Linked DNA regions of Homo sapiens: regions 1, 3 and 4 are each reported to be linked to region 2. The links are microRNA targets in miRTarBase. Many come from high-throughput screens and were not tested one by one. Region 2 holds a microRNA gene; each other region holds the end of a gene's coding sequence.
What was found. Region 2 holds the annotated microRNA hsa-miR-3192-5p (UCUGGGAGGUUGUAGCAGUGGAA, at 4,814-4,836, shown strand). A microRNA usually pairs through its seed, bases 2 to 8, with sites in the 3' UTR of a target mRNA and lowers its output. Matches are read on the target gene's strand: a 7mer-m8 pairs with bases 2 to 8, a 7mer-A1 pairs with bases 2 to 7 and ends in A, and an 8mer does both.

Region 1: miRTarBase lists TMPRSS12 as a target of hsa-miR-3192-5p. The part of its 3' UTR that is shown has no 7-base or 8-base seed match.
Region 3: miRTarBase lists RGS6 as a target of hsa-miR-3192-5p. Seed matches in the 3' UTR shown: 7mer-m8 at 5,414-5,420 and 7mer-A1 at 3,106-3,112.
Region 4: the mRNA of ZNF726 is a reported target of hsa-miR-3192-5p. The part of its 3' UTR that is shown has no 7-base or 8-base seed match.

What each region holds. Positions count from the first base shown.
Region 1 is chr12:50,886,456-50,893,578 of GRCh38, reverse strand. TMPRSS12 (transmembrane serine protease 12) reads right to left here. Exons shown (of 5, transcript NM_182559.3): 5 at 5,695-6,317. The coding sequence ends at 6,066. Among named protein-coding and RNA genes, the nearest start is that of TMT1A, 35 kb to the left of the region's middle.
Region 2 is chr20:18,465,811-18,472,933 of GRCh38, forward strand. It overlaps MIR3192 (microRNA 3192), which reads left to right and starts at 4,805; the gene lies at 4,805-4,881. It overlaps DZANK1 (double zinc ribbon and ankyrin repeat domains 1), which reads right to left and starts at 1,220. Exons shown (of 21, transcript NM_001367614.1): 1 at 1,186-1,220. It overlaps POLR3F (RNA polymerase III subunit F), which reads left to right and starts at 1,580. Exons shown (of 9, transcript NM_006466.4): 1 at 1,580-1,758; 2 at 3,134-3,251; 3 at 7,032-7,099. The coding sequence starts at 1,697. RefSeq lists enhancers at 1,100-1,718, 1,341-1,660.
Region 3 is chr14:72,561,851-72,568,973 of GRCh38, reverse strand. RGS6 (regulator of G protein signaling 6) reads right to left here. Exons shown (of 18, transcript NM_001204424.2): 18 at 2,444-6,557. The coding sequence ends at 6,507. Among named protein-coding and RNA genes, the nearest start is that of MIR7843, 49 kb to the right of the region's middle.
Region 4 is chr19:23,933,290-23,940,412 of GRCh38, forward strand. ZNF726 (zinc finger protein 726) reads left to right here. Exons shown (of 4, transcript NM_001244038.2): 4 at 1-1,195. The coding sequence ends at 678. Among named protein-coding and RNA genes, the nearest start is that of ZNF276-AS1, 21 kb to the right of the region's middle.

The DNA.
Region 1 (7,123 bases), not on the chromosome of region 2:
CTTGATCTGCCTGCCTCGGCCTCCAAAAGTGCTGGGATTACAGGCGTGAGCCACCACGCCCGGCCAACTACATCCTTTTTAATTTTTGTGAGTACATAGTAGGTATATATGTTTATGGAGTACATGAGATACTTTGATACAGACTTGCAATGTGTAATAATGACATCATGGAAAATAGGGTATCTATCCTCTCAGGCATTTATCCTTTGTGTTATAAACAATCCAGTTATATTCTTTAAGTTATTTTTAAATATACAATTAAATTATTTTGACTATAATCACCCTGTTGTGCTATCAAATACTAGGTCTTCAGCTACATCTTTTTTATTTTTACTGATTGCTAGAGGTTACAACATGCATCCGAATTTATTACAATCTAATAATCATTAATATGAAATTATTTTAGATAAAAGAACCTTGAAATAATATCATTCCATTTATTCTTATCATTATTATATGTTTTACATCTACAGATGTTATAACTCAACAATATAGTGTCATAATTTTTACTTTAAATAGTCATAGGTATTTTAAGTAATTTAAGAGAAGAAAAGAAATATAGTCCTTTATATTTACCCACTAAGATTTCTCATGTCATATTCCTTCCTGTAAATGCAAGGTGCCACCCTGTGTCCTTTCCCTTCAGTCTGAAAAACTTCCTTTGGCATTTTTGACGATGCAGGTCTGCTGGCAATTTATTCTCTCAGTTTTCATTTATCTGAAAATGTCCTTGTTCACCTTTATTTTTTGGAGATTAATTTTTTTGGATATGGAATTTTGTGTTAATAATTGTTTTTTCTCTGTTAGCACTTTGAATATGTCACTTAGATTTTTTTTTTTTTTTTTTTTTTTTTTTTTTTTTTTGGAGATGGGGTCTCGCTCTGTCACTCAGACTGGAGTGCAGTGGTGCGATCTGGGCTCACTGCAACCTCCGCTTCCTGGGTTCAAGCGATTCTCCTGCCTCAGCCTCCTGAGTAGCTGGGATTACAGGTGCACTCCACCATGCCTGGCTAATTTTTTTTATTTTTAGTAGAGACGGGGTTTCACCATGTTGGTCAGGCTGGTCTTGAACTCCTGACCTTGTGATCCACCCACCTTGGCCTCCCAAAGTGCTGGGATTACAGGCGTGAGCCACTGCGCCTGGTCGTCACTCAGATTTTTTCTGGTTGCCATTGTGTCTGATGAGAAGTCAATCAATAATATCATTATATCGTAATATGTAATTTGTTTCCCCACCTTCTAGTGACTGTTTTCAATATTTTTAAAGCAGTTTGACTATCTAGTCTTTGATAACTTCCATGTTATCAAAGATTTATCTGAGATTTATCCCATATATTTCCTGCCCTAGACCTGAAATCATTCATATCTCTAAGGAGCCTTGGATCGTTTTATAGGGGAATGACATTGAGAGACTAGAATCTGGGTGCTAGGGTACATGTTATTATTGGTTGTTTGTTGCATCTAGGCCTTTCCAGTGGATAGATTAAGGAAATACTATTACTGATTTTAAAATAAATATAATACTCTCAAATTAGGAATGTGGAACAGGAAGGTGGCTAGAACATGTGTTCAGTCTGTGGTTTTGACTTAATTCCTAAAATTTTACTTAAAAAGTACTATGATTTGAATGTTTGTGGCCACCTAAAATTCATGTTGGGAAGCTAATCATCAATGTGATGCTATTAGGAGGTGAGGCCTTTGGGAGGTGATTTCATTATGAGAATGGAGCCCTCGTGAATGGGGTTAGTGTTCCTTTATAAAGTGGCTCCAGAGAGTGGCCTGGCCCCTTTTGCCATGTGAGGACACAGTTTGAAGATGCCTTCTGTGAAGGTGAAAGTGGGACCTCAGAAGACACCGAAATAGCTGGCGCCTTGCCCAGCTTCCAGAACTGTGAGAAATAAATTTCTGTTGTTTATAAGCCAGCATTTTATTATATTTTGTTATAGCAGCCCAAATAGTTTCTGTAATAGTTGTGCTTTTTCTTTATAGTGAACATATACTGTACTTTTATAATCAGAATGAAACAATATAAAATAATGGAATATCTATGCAATAGATTAATAAACCAAAGAAATGAGTGCACAATTTATAAAATAGAACAAATCTGTGTTAAATTTCTTTGGTGTGATGATGGTGTTGTGATTATGTCACTGTTCTTAGGAGATACATGCTGAAGTATTAGGGATGAAGTAACATGATGCCAGCAATTTACTTTCAAATTTTTCAACCAGAAAACAAAAGAGAGAGAGTTTGTGTGTGTATAATATGTCTGTGTAAGTCTGTGTGTGTTTGTGTTTGGAGAGAGAGAGTATGAGTGTAAACGGCAAAATGTTAATATTTGGGGGAAAAAGGTAAAGTATATACAGGTAATCATAGTACTATTTTTCAACTTTCAGTAGGTTTGAAATTTTTCAAAATAGTTGGGGTAAAATAATGTTTAATAAAGGTTTGTAAAAATACCCATTATAGTAACTGAAAAAGGTAGGATTTCATGGCAGCTGTCTTTACATAATAGGGTTATGGATGATTTTCTTTTCATTCTTCTGAGACAGGGTCTGGCTCTGTCACCCAGGCTGGAGTGCAGTGGCATGATCTCAGCTCACTGCATCCTCTACCTCCTGGGCTCAAGCATCCTCCCACCTCCGCCTCCGCAGTAACTGGGACTACAGGCATACCACCACACCTGGCTAATTTAATTCTTTTTGTAGAGATGGGGTTTTGCCATGTTTCCCAGGCTGGTCTCGAACTCCTGGGCTCAAGCAATCTGTCCCCACCTCAGCCTCCCAAGGATTACAGGTGTAAGCCATCACGCTCAGCTGATGATTTTCTTTCTACTTGTCGGTGCTTTCTCAATTTTATTTATGTATTTATTTATTTTTGAGACAGGTTCTCACTCTGTTGCCCAGGCTGGAGTGTAGTGGTGTGATCACGGCTCACTGCAGCCTTGAACTCCTGGGCTCAGGTGATTCTCCTACCTCAGCCTCCCAGGTAGATAGGACTACAGGCGCATGCCAACATGCCTGACTAATTTTTGCATTTTTTGTAGAGACGAGGTTTCACCCAGGAGTCTCAAACTCCTGGGCTCAAGCTATCTGTCTGCCTTGGCCTCCCAAAGTGCTGGGATTATAGGCATGAGCCACCATGCTTGGCCCTTTCTCAGTTTAAATAATAAGGATATAATATTTGGGGAATTATGAAAATTATTTTTAAAATAGCATATTTTAAAATTTGAATTTATAAGCAGAAAAGGATCCTTTGTTTCAGTAATTTTGGGGGATGATATATGAGACATCCAATAGGATAGTGATCTTTGTAATGAGAAAGAGTGTGTGAATGATAGATGGGATATTAATATAATAATAGAAACCTGTTACTGGCATCTTTCAAATGTTAAGAATTTCATATACTCAACTTTTGTAGTCATCACAACAATGTTGTAAATAGGTATTAATAATTATCTAAACTTTTATAGATACTAAATAACAGAGTGAAAATGGAAACAAAGGCCAAGCAACTTGGTGCATGTATGTTATTCCAGTACCTTGGGAGGCTGAGGTGGGTGGATGGCTGGAGGCCAGAAGTTTAAGACCATCCTGGTCAATATAGTGAGACTCCATCTCTATGAAAAATTTAAAAATTAGTTGAGCATGGTGGTCTGGGCCCTATAGTCCTAGCTACTTGGGAGGCTGAGGCCAGAGGATTTCTTGAGCCCAGGAGTGAGCTATGATCATGCCACAGCACCCTAGGCAGCCTGAGTGACAGAGCCTCTTAAAAAAAAAAAAAAAAAAAAAAAGGACACAATGTTAAAACAAAAGTTGAAACAAAGTCTGTCTTAGATTTCCAAAGTTTATACTCTGGTAGTTTCTTGTGATAGAGAGAAATTTTATAATTGGATTCCAGCTGGCTGACATAGTAAACTAAGCTGGGCAAAAAGATAAATAGCAGATAATAGCTCTCCCCGATCAGAAATGTAATCTAATCTGTCATGAGATTAGAATTAAAAGGAGGAAAAAAAAAAAAAAGAATAGAATTGTAAACCTAGGCTGGGAGTGGTGGCTCACCCCTGTAATCCCAGCACTTTGGGAGGCTGAGGTGGGCAGATCACTTGAGCCCAGGAGTTCAAGATCAGCCTAGGCAGCATGGTAAAACCCTGTCTCTACAAAAAATGCAAAAACAGTTGGATGTGGTGGGGTACACCTGTAGTCTCAGCTATGCAGGAGGCTGGGGTGGGAGGGTTGCTTGAGCCCAGGAGATTGAAGCTGCAGGGAGCAATGATTGTGCCATTGCACTCTAGCCTGGGCAACAGAGAGACTCCACCTCCAAAATAAATACATAGATAAGAAACGTAAACCTAAAGAGTAATTAGAAGATGCCTTTAAAGTGAAAAGCAAAGGTTTCTCCTCTAATTCTGGCAGTACATTTTAGAAGAATTTCTTTTTATTAACATTCAGAGCTTTCAAGTGAATCTGAGTGATATTCAGGTAGTATAAATAGGAAAAGACTAGTGCATCATGCTAATTGCTATATAAGCATTACCATCTGTGAGACCTTGTCGATGGATAAACTAGGAGCTCTTTCAAGAAAGAACAACCAACATTCCATCAGTGTTGCTTCGTCTATAAAAAGCATAGTCATATATTCCTTGAGTGGGATAGATAACCCCAATATTAAACCAATAAACAATATCCCAATATTAGCAATATTAACCCAATATTAAATGTTAATATTAAACAACATTAACCCAATATTAAACCAATAAACAATAATCCCAGTGTCAAACCAGTAATGAAAGAAATTAATACATGGGATATTCATGCTTAATTTCATTTAAATCCTGAAATTAGGTTGACACAAAACAACAACAAAGAACACTTGGTTTTAGATGTTGAATGTAAAAAGAAGGATAAGAAAATAACTATTTCTCCTTTGCTAAATGGATTCTCCTAAGTTCAAGGGAAATGAGAGTTGACTAATAGTAGATATAATTCAATCAACATTTTCTTTTGTTTCATTTTTTGTGTGTGTATGATACAGAGTCCAGCTCTGTCGCCCAAGCTGCAGTGGTGCAATCTTGGCTCACTGCAACCTCCACCTCTCGGGTTCAAGCAATTCTCGTGCCTCAGCCTCCCAAGTAGCTGGGATTACAGGCATGCACCACCATGCCTCGCTAATTTTTGTATTTATAGTAGAGACAGGGTTTCACCATGTTGGCCAAGCTGATCTTGAACTCCTGACCTAAGTGATTCTGCCCACCTCGGCCTCCCAAAGTGCTGGGATTACAGGTGAGAGCCACCATGCCTGGCCCTCATTTTCTTTTGTTTCTTTTAATTCATTTTATACATTAGTTATCATAAAGTTTATCCCAGGTTGGCGTCCCTCTTTTACCCGGCATGCTTTCCAGTTGCTGCTCACAGTTAATTCAGAGGCCCCATGGGATACAAAATTTTAGCATGGGCTTCAAGAAAATAAAGTTTAGAAAGTAGGTTATACTCCTGAAAAAAAGTCATAAATTTCTAAATAAAAAGTAAATTATTTGGGGGTGTGTATACCATAGCTCTCTTGGCAGAGGAAATGAAGTACTGATATTAAATAAATGGTTTTAATTAGAATTTAAATAACAGATAAATACTTGTTTCTCTAAATATACTTTGAGAATTGGAAACAAGATTATAATTTAAAAAAATCATACAAACATTTTTTAGAATAAAATCTAAGAAAGAATTTTTATTAATTTAACCAAATGACAGCTTTCATTTTAATTATAAACTATTATTTGGCATTTATACACATAAAATATATGTTTAACTGAATATTTTGTACAAACTCTATGAGTATTCCAGATACAGAATTATGATTATAAAATAATCAAGATATTTCAAGGAGACATGTGATTCAGTGCCAAAATTACAATTGTATATCTGTCACAATACTTATAGCCCATAAAATGTTCACATGAAATCTCTAATGTAGGCAATTAATTGCTAGAAGAATAAATGATGTTCATTATATAGAACATAGAAAGGGACACAATGCAAAATAAAGATATGAAAGCCTTCAGAATTTCTTTATGTTGTTGCTAGTAAGATGACAAAACATAAAGCTATGAGGATCTGGCCACGTAAAATATTTATAGTAAGTATGCCTTGAGTGCTTGCATGGAAGAAATGCTCTGTCAGCCACTTTTGGTAGAAGGATGGCCCAATATAGACACCAGGAAAACCTCTTCGACCACAGCCATGTCCGTAACTGGTAATTCCCATTACAAAAAATCTTTTATATTCTGGTAAGTAGCACATTAATGGTCCCCCACTGTCACCCTGTCAAAAAAGTCCCAAAATAGTGTTTGTTACTTCTAGTATTCTTCAAGCAACAGTAACACTGGAATAAATTATTTACATCAAACATACATTTATATAAATACACATTTTCAATATACCCCCAATTTATAAAGATCACTAGATTTTGAGCTTAAACTTCCAACTCAAACAGGAGGAATTCAATTTTACCCAGGTATTTGGAGGAACCATATAGCTGGTAGATAAATTTCTCATCTGCCTGGTTTTGAGCCAGAATACTATAAATCAAATTGTTTGGATTTTTAAATATAATTACTTAGGAGAAATATAATTTAGGAAGTGTGCAAAATATTGTCAAAACTGTCTATTATTAGAATATTCTCTTGCTGAATACTGCGTGTGGAAAGGATAACTTTAAGATGTATGAAGGATTCTTTTAGGCACGTGTGTGGTTTGCTTGCCAGGGAGAGGAGTAAACTGGCATCTTGCAATAGAAGACAAGTTTCTAAGTGTTGACAATAGCTAGTGCAGGAAAATGAGCATAAATGGCAAAGCCTCTCAGTAGTATTATAAATGACAGGTCACTTTCATAGTCTATACAAAATTAGGAATGCACCCAAATGCTGTTACTAAGGCCTGTTAATGCACTGAAAACAACAAGGACACTGAGATAACTGTTTCCGATTCTCTATATAAGGCAGGCATTGAATAATTATTTTTTGATGATGAGGATGTTTGGCCTAGGAATGCAATTCACTTAGATTGGATTCTTTACTATTTCATTCAGCAAGATTTTTAAGGAAAAGGACACAGAAAAGATAAACTTT
Region 2 (7,123 bases):
AATGTTAGTTAGAGCTAACTTTTTTGGGAAAGCTCCGGGTTCACAGCCTTGCCATTATCACCAGAGCAGTTCTAGTATTTGAAAGCTGCAAAGACACTTTAGAAGGACTGCAGAGTACTACTTCTCAGTGGAAAGGAAGTTTGCAAGAATATAAACAGTGACCAATAAACACAAGCCTCCCGTTTCATCTACTGTATTTATAAATCCTGGTATTAATAATTAACTACCAGTATGAAAGCCTTACTGGTCTTTTTGGAGGTGAGGGTGGGGAGGAAGGTTGTCATAATTAATGCACAGAAGGTTTCAGGGGGAAAAAACGCTCACCTTAACACAACAACCATTTACATCTCTGTATTGCCTTTTCAAATTTCATTAATAATCCATAGATTTTGCCCAATTATAATCTACATATTCATTCCATTTTTATAGTCTACTTCTTGCATTCTCACTGTATTATTTAGTTTTCCCTGTACTTATTTATCCATTTGTGGCTGGGCATTTAGGCTATTTCTAGTTTCTTTTTAGTTTTGCCTGTTGCAGTTCTAATAATGCTGATCTGAACATGTCTGCAGTTTGAGCTTTGTCACAGACTGTATTCTCAAAAATGGGGTACCTAAATTTAAGGGGTGAACTTAATGCCTTGTTGGATAGTTCCGGATCTAGGGCCAAGAATATAAACTACAGATACTGACAGCACAACAATAGCTCCTACGGGAGTGTGGCTGGACTTGAGACTTGCCCATAGTCGCATTTCCATTTAAGTGAAAGGCAGATAAAATAAAAGTAGTTGAAAAATTCTAAATAAAAAATATGTAGGAGAGGAAGTAATTCGCGAGCGTCAACTAGCAGCTGCCCTTAGGAAGCTGGGGTGGCCAGTGGGCCCCACGCAAAGGGAATCAAGAAAAAAGGCGGATCCGCCAGGCCCAAATGGCAACGTGCAGTCAACAGGATCCCCAGACCCCTCAACTCTCCCAACGTGGACCGCCCCCTCGCAGCCCGGATCCGGAATCCCGTTTGGTTGTTCCCGCCCATCAGGGGCTGCCAAGGACACCTGCATCCTTTCGGCTGGAGTAAGGGAAGCTCTTCCCCTCCTCTAGCCGCCCTCCTCTTCCTCTAACCGCGGGGCCCGGGATCGGGACCCCTAATGCATCTCTGCCGCGCCCAACCCAGTCGCCAGCCTCTCACCGCCTCTTGCCTCCTCCTTCGCCGCCGCCCGGGTTACCACAGACGCGGCGAGCCGCGCCCCGCCCACTGGGTGCTGGGCAGATGATTGGTGGAGACTCAGCTTCTTAGCAACTAGACCGGCCCCTGCCGCTCCGCAGGGAGCCTGGTACCCGCCTGGAGTTCCTTTCCCAGTGCTTTCCCATAGGCATCTAAGAATATTCCTTCACAGAGTTGCCAAGTGCTAAAAGTTGGTTTCCCAACTCAGAATGAAGGAACCAGGCTTGTGCGTCCGATGGGCATTGACATTCTGGAAAACAAGAATAAGAAGCTGTAGCGGCGCCTGTAAGTGGGCCGGAGCAGGCGCAGCTTGGCCACCTCCCGCCGAAAGGCAAGGAAGGACCGGCTGCGACACGAGGAAGAAGGCCCCTCGGCCTCAGCAGAGCGCTATCCTCCACTGGTTCCCCGGGTTCCCCGGCTTGCTACCGGGCTGCTCCGTGCATCTTTCCCCCCAGGCGTCAGGAACTGCGCCCTCATGGCGGAGGTGAAGGTGAAGGTGCAGCCGCCTGACGCGGATCCGGTCGAAATAGAAAACAGGTAAACCAGTGAGGCTCCGGCTTGGCACTCCATCAGGCGCCCAGTCATTTGGGCAGCTGGACCCCTTCTCCGGGATCCCTTGGGAGTGGCCGGAGCGGGTTAGGTGAGCACGCGGGAAAAACGATTGCGGGGTTCTGGACCCACTTGTTCCTTCCCATCCTGGGAGAGCAGAACTCAAGAAGTTCAAAATGGGTTTGACAGCTTGCAACTTTGTGTAGCTGGCTGGCTTTGCCCTGATACTTTTGGGGAAGTTGTGATGACGTGCTGCCTTCCTACTTTGACGCGATCAGTGCTTTGAGAGGAGCCCTCGGCTTTCTTTCCCTGTAGAACACTTGTGAATACATGTTCTGATCCAGGATCGCTCTTGTCACTAAGGGAACGTCTATGACAAAACGTTTAGGCGGAGTTAGGGCGCAGTTGGTGATTACGAAGTAACATTAAGCCAGGTGGTTTCAGTGCAGTATTGAACTCAAGACTTTTAGGACACCCAAAGCCTCTGCCACTTTTATTTTTATTTGTTTGTTTGTGAGACAGAGTCTCGCTCTGTCGCCAGGCTGGAGTGCAGTGGCGCGATCTCGGTTCACTGCAATCTCCGCCTCCCGGGTTCAAGCGATTCCCCTGCCTTAGCCTCCCGAGTAGCTGGGACTACAGGCTCGCGCCACCACGCCCAGCTAATTTTTTATGTTTTAGTAGAGACGGGGTTTCACCATGTTGTCTGGGATGGTCTCGATCTCCTGACCTCGTGATCCGCCCGCCTCGGCCTCCCAAAGTGCTGGGATTACAGGCGTGAGCCACCGCGCCCGGCCCAGTTTTATATTTTACCGAGGCACTGCCACTCTTAGATTTTCACGTAGTTTTAAAAGACTCAACTTTCTCAGACTGTTAGGAATAATACATTTGTTGATGTCGACTAGGTGAAGATTTTGACTTTTTTTGTTTGGTAGGTATAATTCCAAAAACAGGCCCCATTATGGTGAATTGTCATAACAAATTTTGGCTTCCTACCAGAAACATCTGCATTTGCCTCCTGCTTGCAGATTTATGGCTTAACTTTGTCATGCTTATTACACCCGAGAAAACTGAAGTCTCAGCTTTAATATTTTTTCTGTGATTTCATTAGACTTTTGCTCTAATTTAAAGTTCTTATTAGTGAGGAAAAGAAATATTCTTAAATAACAATAATACTGTAAACATGTATTTAGAAATCATCTTCTTCAATTTCTAACATGCTTTGATCCAAAACCATCACAGAAACCCAGATTGTCTGCCAAATGTGAAAAAGGCACAGTTTCAAACTATTCTACTTGTATTTTTACCCCCACTGTCTCTTGAAACAGGTAACCATGAAGGATAACATTAATACCTTTGTTTCTAGGATTATAGAATTATGTCACCAGTTCCCTCATGGAATCACAGACCAAGTAATTCAGAATGAAATGCCTCATATAGAAGCCCAGCAGCGGGCAGTAGCCATCAATAGGTTGTTGTCTATGGTAAGGTGAATCTAACTATTTTGCATAATTACTGATATGCTGATTATCACTGGTTTTTATTATGTAGTTGTGATGGTTAATTTCATGTCAACTTGACTAAGATACAGGATTCCTACATATCTAGTTAAATATTTTATTGGAGTGTCTGTGTGGGTGTTTCTGAAAGAGGTTAGCATTTTGAATTGGTGAACGGAGTAAAGTAGATATGGGTCCAGTTGGGTGAGCATCATCCAATCCATTCAGGGCCTAAATAGAACAAAGTGGCAGAGGAAGATTGAATTCACTCTTTGAATTCAATCTTGAGCTGGGCTATGAATCTTGTGCCCTCAGCACTCCTGGTTCTCAGACCTTCAGACTTGGACTGGTATCTACACCATCAGCTCTCTGCTCTCAGCCCTTTGATCTGCAACACCAGCTTTCCTGGGTCTCCAGCTTGCAGAGGGCAGATGATGGGACTCCTCAGCCTCCATAATCACAGAGCAAATAGCTTCTGATGAATCTTTCAAGAGGGAGGTGTATCCTATTGGTTCTTTTTCTCTGGAGAACCCTAATACAGCAGTCATAAAACGAGAAAGTGTGTTAGGTTTGACTGATAAGACTCTAAACCAGGAAACAGCTCAAACTACCTGAATTGAAAAAAGAAGAAATAATTATGCGTTATAAGACAAATGAAATAAATGTATTATGGTATAACTGTTGTATTTATTAATTGCCACTGCCATACATAGGTCTAGTCTGTTCTCACCTTCTGTTTGCTTCCTACTGCTGGTGTTGGGCCATTTCCCATAAAATATTCCACCCCCCGATTTTCCTATGAGTTGTCACAGAGCCCAGTCATCAGGGTTTCATTCTCCACATTGTCACTCTGAGCATTTCAGGAAGCAAGAATGAGTCCAGTTGAATGAAGAATGTTGGGCTTTGGGGAGGAAGTGCAGCCTTAGCCCCCAGTGACATTGCAATGGAATTTATCAGTGAAGCCATTCTCCATCTGTCCAGAAACAAACAAGCAAGACTGTCTAAAAACCCACCAAGTGGTGCCGATGCTCTAAATCTCCCTTACTTTCCCTCATCACCAAAACATCCTTTTCCTAAGAGCATTTCAGTTTGGCTTTAGTAGCAGTTAGGTTAAAGAGTTCTACGCCAAGGCCTCATCTGAATGACTGATTTGTTTTTTAAGTCTACTAGCCTTGTTGGATTTCCAAGGGCTCTGGATGTGGAGATTTGGGGTCCGATGAATCTTTTCTTAAACCTTTCCCATCAATTTTCTAGCTCAGGAGTTGGCAAACTTTTTCTATAAAGTGCCAGACAGTATATGTTTTAGGCTTTGTGAGCCATATGATTTCTGTCACAACTACACTGTCATTTTAGCAAGAAGCAGCCATGGATGATGATACATAAACAAATGGCTACAGCCATGTTCCAACAAAACTTTGGTTATAAAAACAAGCTGTGGAGCAGATTGCTCACCCCTGTTCTAGCCCAAGGACAAAGGAATGTTGCTGATTTCTAGTTATTTCACTGTGGTGAAGGTCTTCAGCTCTAGGAAAGACAGAGGAAGGGATTCTGGGAGGTTGTAGCAGTGGAAAAAGTTCTTTTCTTCCTCTGATCGCCCTCTCAGCTCTTTCCTTCTGACTGAAAATCATCTTCAGCACCTCTCTTTTACCACCTCTGCCACCACCCACCCACTGCGAGTCCTATTGGCTATAGGTTGTATGCAGGCAGTAGTAGAGCTATCAAAGGATATTAAGAAAGGGAGTGATTATTAATAAATCATGTAATGTTTCTGATTTTAGCTCTTAAAAACAGTTCTTAAATTTGCTGTCCACACCCCCTCCATTTCTATCCCTGGTACTGCATCATGTTCAGGCTCATGGCTTTTACCTGGACAGCTGCAGTAGCATCTTAACTGGTTTCCATGACTCCATCTGTCTCAGAGAAGCCAGCCTGATTTGGGATTACAGTCATGAGCCACCGAGCCTGGCCCCTGATCTGTCTTAAATGCAGGTCTGACCAAGGCACTCTACCACCTACAATTTGTTTATACTGGAGATTCAAGTTCAAACTCCTGGGTTTCCCACACTGAGTCCCTGCATTGTTCACCAGCCTCATCTCCACCACTCTACTTCAAAAGTTAGGTTTCAGGAGGAGCAGATTGTTTTTGGTTTCTGGCCACATCATGCTGTTTCGTGCCACAGGACTCATGTTGTTCCCCTGCTTAGAAGGTTCTTCTTATTCTTTACAGATGACTAACGCATTAGGACTCAACTCTGCCATTGTCTCCAGGAAGTCACTGAACCCCCCCAGGTTGGGCCGCAGCCTGTTCTCCGAGTACCCAATCTGGGAGTTCAGGGTGGCTTTACTTACCTCTATCTTAATGCCAACCAGATGGGTATTGAAGTCACCTGTGTGTTTCCCTTTTAGAATTAATGTTGTTCCCCCAAACACCTATCATAACACCTGGCACAGTACAAGTATTCAGTAAATATTCATAAGCTGGATAAATGACCAGAGCCTCTGGATTGGGCCTTGTAGTCCTACTTTGCCACTTCGTGGGGTCAGGGAACAGGAGTGTGTCACTGTTCATTCAGTATGTAAATCCATTTCCAAGTCATGAGTGTCTGTTTTAAAACAAGGGAATGGGCTGGGCACAGTGGCTCCTGCCAGTAATCCCAGCACTTTGGGAGGCCGAGGTAGGCGGATCACTAGAGGCCAGGAGTTCAAGATCAGCCTGGCCAACATGGCCTAACCCTATCTCTACTAAAATACAAATATCAGCGTGGCATGGTGGCATACACCTGTAATGCTAGCTACTTGGGAGGCTGAGGCACGAGAATCGCATGAACCCGGGAGGCAGAGGTTGCAGTGAGCCGAGATTGTGCCACGGCACACCAGCCTGGGTGACAGAGTGAGACTCTGTCTCTAAATAAATACATAAATAAACAAGGGAATAGCGTCCCTCTCAACTGTGGCTTTCTAGTACTTCCAGAGCCTAGTGGTATAATTATCTGGGTTCTCTTAAGTTCGGACCCAAGGAAATTCAGGAGCATGACAGACATACTTTATTTTACTTTTGATTTGCTATATAAAAACAATACTACTCTAGTCCTTTTATTCATTGGCTGACTTCAGTAAATGTCACTGTTAACTTTTTTTGTTTTTTGTTTTGTTTGTTTTTTGCTTTTCAAGATGGAGTCTTGCTCTGTTGCCCAGGCTGGAGTGCAGTGGTGCGATCTCAGCTCAGCCTTCCATGTAGCCGGGACTACAGGCGCATGCCACTGCACCTGGCTAATTTTTGTATTTTTAGTAGAGACAGGTTTTCGCCATGTTAGCCAGGCTGGTCTCAAACTCTTGACCTCAAATGGACCACCTGCCTTGACCTCCCAAAGTGCTGAGATTACAGGTGTGAGCCACCACGCCCAGCCATTAACTTTATAAATTTTATTTTTCACTGTGCAACAGAATATGCCTATTTAGTCTTTATTTCAACTTTTTATTTATATAAATTATATTTTTATTTTATATATGTAATTTGGATTTATATTGATTTTTAATATAGATTGTTATTCTCAAGCTGCTTTTTAAAAATTCTTTATGCATTGATCATATAACCAAGCCAAGATCTAGCCTACAGGAAATTGTTAGTGATATTTTGAAAAATTTTGAGATTAAAGAGCAGGTTTTGAAAAATTAAGAATGTTAAAGAATGCATCAACATTTGTCATTTGATTTAACATATCTCCAAAATAACTGACTCCTGTTTTCTACTGTCTTAAAAACTAGGGTCAGTTGGATCTCTTAAGGAGCAATACGGGCCTTTTATATAGAATAAAGGACTCTCAGAATGCTGGGTAAGTACTTGTTTTTTTAATTTT
Region 3 (7,123 bases), not on the chromosome of region 2:
ACCCCTTCCTAACCCAGAGCCATCCTGTGATGTAATGGGAGAAAGAGAAGAACCAGGCTTTATTTTCTTGGTTGGAAATTGTAGGAACGAGGCTGCCCCTCCCGTGGAGGTCCACGTGTTCCCTTGGACGCCAGGTGTTCTCAGAGGACGGAGGCAGGTCCTTGTCCTAGGTCAGAGGGCAGAGTCACTGGCCTGAAATTGAGTATTTTGGAACAAGAGCTCAGAGTCCAAATCTCACGGAAGTAGCCATGAGGTCCGTCAGACAAACGGGGATCTAGATGGGCAGCGGGAATCTGCACTGTTTCCATTTTCCATGTGGGGTCTGGGGAGGGCGCCTCCGGCCCGCCACTCTGCTGTTTCTCAGGCCTAATGCAGGGTTATTGATGGAGGCCACCCAAGTGACACACAGGGAACCAGGTCCTCACTGGGAAGAAGGGAGCCAGGGGCTTGTCAGAGGCAGAGAGAGGCCGCTGCCCACACAGGCAAACAAAGCCTACAGCCTCGAGGTTGGCGGGAAGGGCAGCTCTCAGGGGCCAGGCTGCCAGGGAAGTTGTCCGTCTGGCAGGGATTTGCAAACATACCCTCCCTTCACCGCCTTTCAATGCCTATCTCAGACATGGCTCCAGCTAACACCAGCACCCATTTCGTGAACATTTACCATGTGTCAGGCCCAGGCTAAGCCCTCTAGATTAATTCACAGCCACCCGAAGATTTTGAAATTCTCATTCTTGTTTCACAAATGAGGACACTAAGGCTCAGAATGAGGGTGGCTCTGGGGCTCTGCACTCAGGGGCTGTTACTTCGTTTTGTCTGCTGAAATAAGCCAGACCTGGCCAGGAGACACCTCAGGGCTCTGAGGAGGAGAACCGAGCCCACACTTCAAGCGAGGAAGAGCGTACCAGAGAGCTCTGTGACAGATGGAGCTCACGTGGCTACACCCGACACCCCAGGCCCCTTTAAAATAAGCCAGATTCCACAGCCTCTTTTTGGCCAGGGGGCCCTGCTCCTCTGTGTATGGGGTCTGGGGCAGATCCAGTAACCCCCATTGTGGGCGCTGAAGGGCTGTGTACAGGGAACGGGCCCAGCTGCAGGTGTCGGAAGTCCCACGACGGGGGTCAGGGGTTCATATGGGTGTTTCTGTGAAGGAAGGGTGGCGGAGGGAGAGCCTGCTGGGCAGAGCTCTGTGGGCCCAGGAGGGGATATGCCTCTCAGAGAACTACTTGGGTTTGGAGGTTGCCACATCCCAGGAAAAGTTCTAGGATCAGAGACACTCATCAGAGGCCCTGGTGGTTCCTCAGAGGCTGGGATCAATGAACAATTGGAGGCTGGCAGCAAAGGAGAGGACAGCTTCATGCCTGTTATGCCACAGGTCCCCAGAAGGGTGTAGGGAGAGAGGCAGCTGTCAGGATGGCTCTCATTCTTGGACCGGCACAGCTTTTTGTGTTATAACTGGTAGCCTCAAATCTCCATCTTGATTCTGGACCTGAAAGCAGAGCCCTGCTCGTGGCGGTCAGGGTAGAGTGCATGCACAGCAACAGCCCGATAAGCAAAGATTCTGGAACTAAGCCAGATGGTCCAGCTGAGAAGGCAGGCGCAGCTTGGGTTCCCTGGAGGTGGTGGCCATGGTCAAAGAGGACAGGCTCTTTTGGGGATGGACCAGGACGTGAGGTGGGACATGTTATGGACCTGAGGCAGATGTGACTTGATCTTAACTCTGTGGGGCAGAAAATCCTGCACAAGGGGGTGGCCCAGGGATTGAAAGATGAGTTGGTTCCCTTCTAGCTGTGACTGGAGTCCCATTTTCATGCCTCTGAAATCATTTCTACCTTTAGGAGCAAAATTTCTGCCACTGAAGTATGCAGCTAGGTGTTGGCTTTCTCATTAATAGAGGGATTGCAGTACACTAGCACTGCCTTTTTACCTTGCGCTCATCCTCCTCTTGTCAGCCTGACGCTCAGGCTCTCAGAGTCCAGCTGCTTTGGCGTTAGTGGGAAGTGCAACTGTCTGTCGCTCAGGAAACCGAGACTCTGTGTAAGAAGCACCGTCTGTATGCAGCAGACTTTGACCCTGGGATCTTATTCAAGAGGGTGTCAGAGCAGCCACAGGGTTTTGCACCTGAGTACAGACAATGGGGTCTGGAGAACCCCCCAGCCAAGGAGACCCTGGCAGAGTCAGGGACTTCAGCCTTATGGTGACACCACTGTCTCTACCTACCAGGATGAGTCCAATGCCCCAGAGATCTGGTTTTTCTGTGCTGCCTGGCAGCCTGGTTGGGAGTGAGAAGGAAACAGGTGTGTGTGTGTGTGTGTGTGTGTGTGTGTGTGTGTGTGTGTGTGTGTGTGTGATAATGGGGAAGGGTGGAGTGTGGGGAGGGGTGGTCGATTTTTCTAGAGGTACATCCTGCCCAACGAACCCCCAAACCAAGGAGCCACACAGAGTTAGCTGGATTGAAGTGGGTTCAAGTCATTTATTTTTAGACTGTACCAGCATGTTTGGTTCTGGGGTCCAATCCCCAAATTCCAGAAAAATAAACTAAAGAGAACCACATGCACTAAGAGGAGGCCATTCCGATGAGTCCGTGATCATGCGGTGAGTGGGCTTAGAGTATAGAACAGGGACCCCTGGTATGGAGCAGGGCCTTCCCTCCCCAGACAGCTGACAGCAGCTGGCTCTGAGCCCTCATCGGGGCTGGGGAGAGGGCCAAGTCCTGGTCATTTGGACCCTGTCCCCGTATAGACCCGGGCCCTTTATTGCTACATTTGCTACTTTGCTACTTTATGGCCCCTGGGTCTAGCCCAGGGGATGCCTTATCACTGGGTGGTACTAATGAGTAGGTTGCTGGCATCTGCTGTTGCTATGGTTACACGAGCACAGGCCTCTCTTCAGAGGGTCCCATGGTGAGTTATTAGTGATTCGTCTGGCCACTATTCAACTTATCCCATGGTCTTTGCTACATATTCAACTTGGGCAGCTCCTTTTTGAGGCTGGTGGTGCATTATCTCCCCCCGAGCCCAGAGTTTCCCAGCTCCTGGACCTTGCAGCAACACCTCCCTCCAATACATTCTGCAGGGCCCAAAGGAAGAGAGCCCTTAATCCTTTCCCTCTTCTGGGAAGGCTTTCCTGGTGGTGGTTTTTGAAGCACATGTATATGGAGCAGAACAGGAGGGATGCATTTTAGGAAAAACATCACCTTCCACAATCACCAAGGGGGCCAGTTGGGTGGCAGGCTCCTGGTTCAGCGTCCTGTTGGTGAGGTAGTTTGAAATCCCAGGAATCCTGCCAGGGAAGAAGCCCCTGGAGCATGTCCCCATGTGTTCAGCTAGTCCAAGCTGCAACTCAGAGTCGCAAGAGGTCCCTCCCAGGATGCTGGCCCGGTACCTGACCACTTAGCGGTGGTGAGCCTGGAGCGCAGGCCCAGCTGACTGCACTGGCAGTTGGGCCCTGCTTTGTTCCTGGGGTATAGCAACACCTTCCCAGGAGAACAAAGCTGACGCATCACTTTCTAGAAGGGCAGGAGGCTCCTCCCCAGCCCAGAGAGTTCCTGCTGCTTAGTTCAGGCCATCTGGCTGCGGCTGGACGTTTATATGTGCCAGCCTACAAGCTTTCCTCTTCCCATGTAGGGAAAGGTTATTTTAGTCAGATGCCAGTGCCTGGTGCCTTGTGTGTCTAACCCGACGGGTGGGTGGTCACTTGCTGCAGCTGCCCTGATGCTGTGGTTGTGGGGCTGCCAAGATGTGGCTGGAGAGCACTTTTCCTCATAGGGAGGAGTCCTAGGCCCAGAGACCACACCCAGTCAGGGAGGCTAAGGCAGCTTCTAGGGGGAAGGGACGGGGTAGGGGAATTTGCTTTGCTACAGAATTGCCTGCAAACATCTAATCTAGTCTGAATTTTTGGCTGTGTAGACCAGGCCAATGGGGGACGGGCCAAGACCAGATTTTCCAAATGTACTTGCATGACCAAGTTCTGCGTGGTAGATGGACCTTGGATAGGCAGCCTCGTTCCACTCCCTTCTTGCAAAGCTTCTGGCTTGATCTACTGGGGAACATGAGTGCCTTAGCTGTGGGGTGGTGTGAGAGTATTATTGCTCTGGGTTTGAGTCCATCTGAAGTCTCCCTAGCTCCGTTGTGCTTACTGACCCTCCCCTCTGGATGTCCCCAGAGGTGCTTGTAAGCCTGCAGCCAGCTCCATCTCAGGGCCACAGTCCACCTGGCTCTGGTCAGATCCTCTGGGGATCTCCAGGGTGAGACCAGTCAGAAGGAGAAGGGGGCACAGAGGGAATGGCCAAGAAGCCAACCCTGCCCTGTCTGCAGCCTGGCTTAGAAAGCCCCTGCATCATGGGGAGGAGCAGGGGGCAGCCAGGCCCCTTGCCCTGGATAACTGAGGGCACTGAGGTGCCTGCTGCTTGGGAACACCCTTTGCCCTATGCCTAGGGGTCAGCACAGCCCGGGGATCCTTGGGCAAGGCTGGGGGCAAATGAACTTAGACTGTAATTTTGTTCTGAAACATGAGGTTTATACAAAGAGAAAGAGGATGAAAGGGGCCTGTCAAAAGACCCCATAACTTGGAATGGGGCTTTATGCCATTGATTTACTCATCAAGTGGTTAGTGCCTCCAAAGTACCAGCCTCTGTGCTGAGCATGTGCAGGTGTCCAGCAAGAATTGCTGCCTCTGAGACACTGAGGACTCAACATCTGTCATCTCTCTGGTTTCCACTGTACCTCCAAGAGAGGAACCATTGCCAGTGGGGGAAACTTGGGCATGGTAGTCAAGAACTCACAAGGATACAACATAACGAAGACTCCTAATGCCCGCGATGGCACTGCTGTGAGGGACAGAAGGCTGGTGCCCTGGGGACAGGGCTGTGTGGAAGCAGACATAGACAGGACTTGGAGGTGGTGGGGTGGAAAGATGGGTCACTGGGGAGCACCCAGGAGGCCGGGTCTGCAAATAAGCAAGCATCTGAGCCTTTGGTCACCAGCTGGCGAATTTGGCTGCATGAGAAAAGAAATACCAGCGATCGCTTTATTGCTTCTATGTTTTTTGTTTATATGCTCCCAAGAGAGATTTTTTTTTTTACCTATGACCAAAAATAGATCAAAGGAGGGTAGTCATAGCAAGTGGGGGAGTGAATGTCTGGATTCAAAACAGGTTACTTAATACAGCTCTGTCTGTGGGCTCATGGGTGTCACAATAACAATGACAATGATGATAGTATTAGCTACCGTTTGCTAAGCACCTACTGCGTATCAGGCACCTGACTCGGTGCTTTACATACATTACCTCACAGCCAGGTTGGCAAATGGTCATTTTGACACACACACACAGGGAATACAGGTGGATCTTTTGCAGGTTTTTGCATTTCCCCTAGGTGACCGGTTTAGAGGGGTGCTTTGGCTGGGCCTTCAGATAAAGACTGGGAGGAGAGCCCTGTGGCCTGGCCTGGTCCCTTCGTAGCATACTCTGCCCCAGCTTCACACACAAAGGAGACCTGACCCAGCAAGGGTCTCACTGTGCCTGTCAGGATGCCACCACGTGGGGGCTGCCAGCCCTGCAATCCAGCCACCTCCTGGGCTGGGGACCCTCCCAGCTCCCACCTGGGGCTGCCAGAGGGGAGAATCCCAATGGCCCCTGAGTTCATGGCCATGTTTATTTTGAGTAAAACATGAGGGAATAAACCAAGGAGCAAGGGGGCAAAGCCAGAATAAATTATGAAATAATTTTCTAAAAGATGGTCAGCAGAATCCCCGCAGCTGTGAAACAAAAAGCTCTGTCATCTACAACAGTGCTTCCTCGAACGCTGGACCCTTGAGACATGTGACGGGACCTGAGGGCAGCCACCGGGCTGGCGGGGACCTCTCCGAACGCTGATCTCAAAGAGGGTGGAAAGACCTTGAGGCGGGGCAATCCGTGAGGTTGCTTTCTTGCTGAAGATGTGATTTGGACATTTTACGTGAAAGCAGTGCCTGGTGCTGGCAGTGACACCCGGGTGGCCACAGAGACGTGAGGGATGACAGGCGGCGGTGGGGATGTAGTGGCTGTAACTATGGGAGGTGCCAGGGAGGTGATGCAAATGCTGGATGTGCTCTCGGTCCACTCATGCCTCTTGAATTTGCCAGAAGGTGTGACCGTCTCCAGACAGCGAGGGAGTGAGGATAATAATATAATCTCAAGTGATAGTCGTGACAGGAACCCCACGACGTGTTCTCCCCTGAATGAGCTGGGATCAGGGCCTCTTAGCGAGTGGAGTGTTGGAATACAACTGTACAAAGAAGAGAGGGCTGTAAACAGGAGCCTCCACCGGGCCCAGCCCAGGCTCTGTGGACTCTTTCTTTCTGGTCTCCCCATTCACCCACCGAGTCTCCCCACCATCGCCCTTCATTGCCCTCACTCTTTCTCCTTCACAGTGACCAAGTCTCCTCGTAAGGAAACTCTGTCCGCAGATGTGGAGCGCCGCCGCCTGCCTGTGGGGTCCGCGGGCCCAGGCCCTGGACCTGCGGTAGGAACGGTCAGGAGGACTGCATCAGGCCCGTGAGGCGCTTGCCCGCCAGCGACTTTCCCTGCAGAGAGACAGCGACAGAGAGGCACGCACAGGCGCACACACAGAGGGACAGAGACAGAGAGCCAGACAGGTGAATTAATTGTTGCATGAGCCATGTAGGCCAAACGACCAACCAACCCAACTGACCATCTTGATATTTGATCTCTAGGTGTATGGGAGCCTTAACTTTGGACAGCTGGAGAAACCAGGGCTCCAGGGAAGGTTCAGGGAGTCCTGGAGGGTCCCCTTATGAGGGTGTGTTGTTGGTACTCTTTTTGTGGTATGGGAATTTTACTTACCAAAAACCAGGTATTTAAACCTTTAGGTAGAGCAATTTTTAATGCCGGCGGGCTGCCCTGAAATTGATTTTGTTCACGTGGGGGAGGAAAAGGTGGACTTGGGGTGTTCTGAGATCAGGGACGGGGGCTTGACTCAAATAGAGGGTGGCCAAGGATCTGGCTGATCAGAAGCTAATGAATGAACTAGTCTTAAGAAGGCAGAGTCCTGTTTGGAATGCAGGGTAGACACAAAGACCTTGAGTCCTCTTGATGACCAGTTCTGGGACCATGAAAGTGGGGGGCATTT
Region 4 (7,123 bases), not on the chromosome of region 2:
ACTGGAGAGAAACCCTACAAATGTGAAGAATGTGGCAAAGCTTTTCATCGATCCTCAAATCTTACTAAACATAAGATAATTCATACTGGAGAGAAACCTTACAAGTGTGAAGAATGCGGCAAAGCGTTTATATGGTCCTCAAACCTTACTGAACATAAGAAAATTCATACTAGAGAGAAACCCTACAAATGTGAAGAATGTAGTAAAGCATTTAGCCGATCCTCAGCCCTAACTACACATAAGAGGATGCACACTGGAGAGAAACCCTACAAATGTGAAGAATGTGGCAAAGCTTTTAGCCAGTCCTCAACCCTTACTGCACATAAGATAATTCATACTGGAGAGAAACCCTACAAATGTGAAGAATGTGGCAAAGCATTTATATTGTCCTCGACCCTATCTAAACATAAGAGGATTCACACTGGAGAGAAACCCTACAAATGTGAAGAATGTGGCAAAACTTTTAATCAATCCTCAAATCTTAGTACACATAAGATAATTCATACTGGAGAGAAACCTTACAAGTGTGAAGAATGTGGAAAAGCGTTTAATCGATCCTCAAATCTTAGTACGCATAAGATAATTCATACTGGAGAGAAACCTTACAAGTGTGACGAATGTGGCAAATCATTTATCTGGTCCTCAACCCTTTTTAAGCATAAGAGGATTCATACTTGAGAGAAACCTTAAAAAGGGTAAAGAATGTGGCAAAGCATTTATATGGTCCTCAACGCTAAACATAAGAGGATGCACACTGGAGAGAAACCCTACAAATGTGAAGAATGTGAAAAAGCTTTTAATCCTCAAATCTTACTAAACATTAGATAATTCACACTGGAGAGAAACCTTACAAGTGTGAAGAATGTGGGAAAGCTTTTAATCATTCTCAAATCTTACTACACATAAGATAATTCATACTGGAAATAAACCCTACAAATGTGAAAAATGTGGCAAAGCATATGGTCCACACCCCTAAGTAGACATAAGAGGATGCACACTGGAGAGAAACCTTACAAATGTGAGGAATGTGGCAAAGCCTTTAAATGTTCCTCAACTGTTACTGAACATAAAGTAATTCATACTGAAGAGAAACCCTACAAATGTGAAAAATGTGTCAAAGCCTTTAAGCAGTCTTCAATCCTGAGTAACCATAAGATAATTCAAACTGGAAAGAAACCCTGCAAGTCTGAAGAATGTGGGAAATCTTTCTTTTTTTTCCATTGCACCTTTATTGTTTATTCTGTTCACTGTTCAGAATTTTCATACAGTCTTTCTAGAATCAAGAAGGGTGTACAGTGGTATTCCTGTGGCTTTCTCTCCTCTCCAGCTCCTCTCTTGTTCAGCAGCCTCCGGACCCCCAAGGGCTAAGGAATCAGACACACCGGGTTTGGATCCTGACTCCACTAGGAGCCATGTGATCTCAGGGATATTTCTTGATCTCTCTGAGCTCTTTTTCCTTTTTCTGCAATGTGGGGAAAAGGCTCCCTCTCTCACAGAGTTACTACCAGAATTCAATGACTCCAAGTATCCAAAGCATCTGGCACAGTGCCTGGGCACACAGTATGCCCAGATGCACCTTAGCTTCCTTCCTTCTGGCAGGGAAAAGATACCTGATAAAGCCAGAGCCAGCTGCTTAGGGGCATTTGCTTTATAAAGAGCCTGGTCCCTTTAACAGAGGCCAAGAAATGACTCTCTAATGGTGGAATTTCAGACACCATAGCATGGGTGAGGGAGAGATCTGGAGGCATAGACTATAGAAGTCTCAGAATCATTTGAATCCAGCCAGGCAGACTGCTGCTGCTTCTGCCCAGGGGCAAGGCTGGTGATACAGTTTGGCTGTAACCCCACGCAAATCTCGTCTTGAATCCCCACATGTTGTGGGGAGAGACCCAGTGGGAGGTAACTGAATCACAGGGGCAGGTTTCCCATGGAATGTGGGAAATCTTTTAACCTGTCTTCAACTTTTATTAAACATAAGGTAATTCATACTGGAGTAAAACTCTACAAATGTGAAGAATGTGGCAAAGTGTTTTTCTGGTCCTCAGCCCTAACTAGACATAAGAAAATTCATGCTGGACAGCAACCCTACAAATGGGAAAAAATTGGCAAAGCCTTTAACCAGTCCTCACATCTTACTACAGATAAGATAACTCATATTGGAGAGAAATCTTACAAGTGTGAATAATATGGAAAGCCTAAAAAAGTCCTCAATTCTTAACAGATATAAGATTATTCATACTGAAGAGAAACTCTACAAATCTGAAAGATGTGCCCAGTGCCTTTGACAGCATCTCAAACTTTTCTAAACAAAATCATGCTGCTGACAAATCCTAGAAATGTGAAGAATGTGACAAAGCCTTTAAATGATTGTTGCACTTCATTGTATGTAAGATCATTTATACTGGAAAAAACTACCAATGTGAACAATGTGGCCAAGCTTCTAACCAATGCTCATAGCTTATTGCACCGGTAAGCATTTATATTTGAGAACAAATGTACAAATATAGACAAAGCAAAAAAGCCATTAATACCTGCTCACATCTTACTCAAAATCAGAGTTCATACTGAATAAAAGCATTAAAAATCTAATTACCGTCAAAAGATCAGAAAATATGTCTTTAAAGTGCAGAAGCATATTTATTTTGAAAAAGCATTACAAATATGAAGAGGGTTGTAATACATTTACTTGTCTCACAGATCTTATTGTACACATTTTGTACTAGAGGAAAACCCTGAGGCAGTTATTAAAATTTTGTTCAACATCAGGGAGTTTATATTGAAGAAAACCCTGCAAATGTAATGAATTTGGAAAAACATTTTTTCAAAAACTACAAATTATGAAACACCAAAGCGTTCATACTAAAATATATTTTTGCAGATGCATTAAATATGAAAGATGTTCAATCCAAAATTAAGTCTATGTAAATATCAGGGAATAATTCACAGTAGAAATATTTAGGGCACTCAAACTTTAGACATTACACTAAATCAGTGCTGAGTATAGGAAATAATACAAACTAAAGTTCGTGTAAACATTATTTGTATATAACTTTAAAAGAAGAATATTTTTTGGAGAGTTATAATTACAATCAAAGTATAACTTTTTTTTGAAAATACAGAATTTTAAAAAAGCAAATAATGGAGTTAAACTCTTAAATTACTTCATGCTGTTCCATCATTCCTGGTGTATTCACATGTGAAAACATGTGACTAATTGTAGCTGCATTAAAGATATGAGAGATTCTTTTTTATTAGGTAGGCCTTTATGACTTTTTCTATGGAAAGGTAAGGACATTAAAATGTAAGATACATGATGAAAATTTAAGTAGAGAGGCTCTTTGGGTTAACTTGTAATGTTGAGTGATGCATGAGGTAGGTGTTCAGAGTAATATTTTTATGCATTATCATGAAAGAAAAACTTTTTTTTTTTCATGGCAGTTTGATTTTTATTTTTATTTTAATTTATTTTTTATTTATTTATTTTTTAAGGTCACAGATCAACAGGATCCCAAGGCAGAAGAATTTTTCTTAGTACAGAACAAAATGAAAAGTCTCCCATGTCTACCTCTTTCTACACAGACACGGCAACCATCCGATTTCTCAATCTTTTCCCCACCTGTCCCCCCTTTCTATTCCACAAAACCGCCATTGTCATCATGGCCCGTTCTCAATGAGCTGTTGGGTACACCTCCCAGACGGGGTGGTGGCCGGGCAGAGGGGCTCCTCACTTCCCAGTAGGGGCGGCTGGGCAGAGGCGCCCCTCACCTCCCGAACGGGGCGGCTGGCCGGGCGGGGGGCTGACCCCCCCCACCTCCCTCCCGGCCGGGGCGGCTGGCCGGGCGGGGGGGCTGACCCCCCCACCTCCCTCCCAGACAGGGTGGCTGGCCGGGTGGGTGGCTGACCCCTCCACCTCCCTCCCGGACGGGGCGGCTGGCCGGGCAGGGGGCTGACCCCCACCTCCCTCCCAGCCGGGGCGGCTGGCCGGGCGGGGGGCTGACCCCCCCACCTCCCTTCCGGACGAGGTGGCTAGCGGGCGGAGACCCTCCTCACTTCCCAGATGGGGTGGCTGCTGGGCGGAGGGGCTCCTCACTTCTCAGACGGGGTGGCTGCCGGGCAGAGGGGCTCCTCACTTCTCAGACGGGGCGGTTGCCAGGCAGAGGGGCTCCTCACTTCTCAGACGGGGCGGCCGGGCAGAGACGCTCCTCACATCCCGGACAGGGTGGCAGGGCAGAGGTGCTCCCCACATCTCAGACGATGGGCAGCCGGGCAGAGACGCTCCTCACTTCCCAGATGGGATGGCGGCCGGGAAGAGGCGCTCCTCACTTCCTAGATGGGATGGCGGCCGGGCAGAGATGCTCCTCACTTTCCAGACTGGGCAGCCAGGCAGAGGGGCTCCTCACATCCCAGACGATGGGCGGCCAGGTAGAGACGCTCCTCACTTCCCAGATGGGGTGGTGGCCGGGCAGAGGCTGCAATCTCGGCACTTTGGGAGGCCAAGGCAGGCTGCTGGGAGGTGGAGGTTGTAGCAAGCCGAGATCACGCCACTGCACTCCAGCCTGGGCACCATTGAGCACTTGAAAAACATTCTTTAGTTAACATTAAGTTAGTAGTATGTTACTGTACTTTTATGGAATAATATACAGTATATTTTTAAATTATGTGTGAACTTAACTTTTCAATTCAGCATTTTTAACATGTTAAATACTATCATGAATTCATTGAAGCATTATGCCACTAACTTTAACCTATTCCACCTTACTCAATGGTGTAGGTAAAAGATGGTAACAATACACTATTTGGTAAGATAATGGACTGACATCTCTAGTAATCTTTTTGTCAGTGGCTTTAAATTGCCAATAAGTTAAAGAATGTTGTTCCTATAGGTTAAATTTTATTCTTATTTTTACATTTAAATTTATTTTTCTTAATTTTTGTGGATATGTAATATGTGTATATGCTTATGCCATATATGGCATATTTTGATACAGGCATGTGATATATAATCTTAGATGTAAATAAATTATGGAGTGTGTTTGTGTTAGTGTAAGTTTGAAACTATTTTTAGCCAAAAAAAAGTAATATTGGAACAAAATAAATCATTTTAAGAAGGTGTCTAATTTACTAGAAAAAAACCAAAATTCTCAAAATTACTGAAAGTAAATCTATCCTCTGTACTTTGTATTAAATTTATTACTGTATAACCTTTTGGCTTATGCTTCAGAATCTCCCCATGCAAATTCTCTGTTTTAACTTGACTGTTACTCATGTTAGAACCATAATTTTGTTTGTTCGTTTAATAGTTTTTTTTTCTTTTTTTTTTCCTTTTTTTTTTTTTTGAGCTGGAGTCTTGCTCTGTTGCCCAGACTGGAGTGCAATGGTGTGATGTTGGCTCATTGCAATCTCTGCCTTTCAGGTTCAAGCAGTTCCCCTGCCTCAGCCTCCCAAGTAGCTGGGATTACAGGTTCCCGCCACCAGCCCAGCTAATTTTTGTATTTTTAGTAGAGACAGGATTTTGCTATGTTGGTCAGGCTGGTCTTAAACTTCTGACCTAAGGTGATCCACCCACATCAGCCTCCCAAAATACTGGGATTACAGGTGTGAGCCACCGTGCCTGGCCTGTGTGTAATAGTTTATGAAATATTCATTATGTGAGCTGGTCTGTAAGTATAAGAATGATTTTTTTTTTAATTTCATTGTTCCATTTATTGGGGTACAGGTGGTGTTTGGTTAGATGAGTTAAGTTCTTTAGTGGTGATTTGTGAGACCCTGATGGACCCATCACCTGAGCAGTATATACTGCACCATATATGTTGTCTTTTATCCCTCCCCCTTCCCACTCTTCCCCCCCAAGTCTCCAAAGTCTATTTTATCATTCTTATACCTTTGCATTCTCATATCTTACCTCCCACATATCAGCAAGAACATATGATGTTTGGTTTTCCATTCCTCAGTTACTTCACTTAGAATAATAGTCTCCAATATCATCCAGGTCATTGCAAATGCTGTTAATTTCTTTTTGTGGTGAGTAGTATTCCAACATATATGTATATGTCATAGTTTCTTTATCTGTTTGTTGATTGATGGGCATTTTGGTTGGTTCCACGAGTTCAAAATTGTGAATTGTGCTGCTGGAAATATGGATGTTCAAGTTTCTTTTTCAAATAATCAGTATTTGGGTTTATTTCTGGGTTCTCTGTTCCATTGGTCTATATTTCAAATAATGACTTCTTTTCCTGTGGGTAGATACCCAGTGGTGAGATTGCTGGATCAAATGGTAGTTCTACTTTTAGTTCATTAAGGAATCTCCCCACTTTTTTCCATAGCGGCTGTACTAGTTTAGATTTCCACTAGAAGTGTAGAAGTGTTCCCTGATCACTGCATCCACGCCAACATCTACAGTTTTTCGATATTTTGATTATGGCCATTCTTGCAGGAATAAGGTGGTATGGCATTGTGGTTTTGATTTGCATTTCCCTTATCATTAGTGATGTTGAACTTTTTAAATGTTTGTTAGCCATTTGTATATCTTTTGAGAATTGTCTATTCATGTCTTTGGCCCACTTTTTGATGGGATTTTTTTTTTTTTTTTTTTTCTGACTGATTCGTTTGAGTTCACTGTAGATTCTGGATATTAGTCCTTTGGCAGATGTATAGATTGTGAAGATTTTCTCCCACTCTGTGAGTTCTCTGTTTACTCCGCTGACTGTTTCATTTGCCATGCAAAACCTCTTTAGTTTAATTAGGTCCCAGCTATTTATCTTTGTTTTTACTGCGTTTGCTTTTGGTCATGAAATTTTTGCCTAGCCAATGCCTAGAAGGGTTTTTCCAAGGTTATCATGCAAAATTTTTATAGTTTCAGGTCTTAGGTTTAAGTCCTTATTTCATCTTGAGTTGATTTTCATATAAGGTGAGAAATGAGGATCCAGTTTCATTCTCCTACATGTGGCTAGCCAATTATCCCAGCACCATTTGTTGAAAAGGGTGTCCTTTCCCACATTATGTTTTTGTTTGCTTTGTTGAAGATCAGTTGGCTGTATTTGGGTTTATTTCTGGGTTCACTCTTCTTTTGGTCTATGTGCCTATTTTTATACCAGTACCATGCTGTTTTGGTGACTAGAGCCTT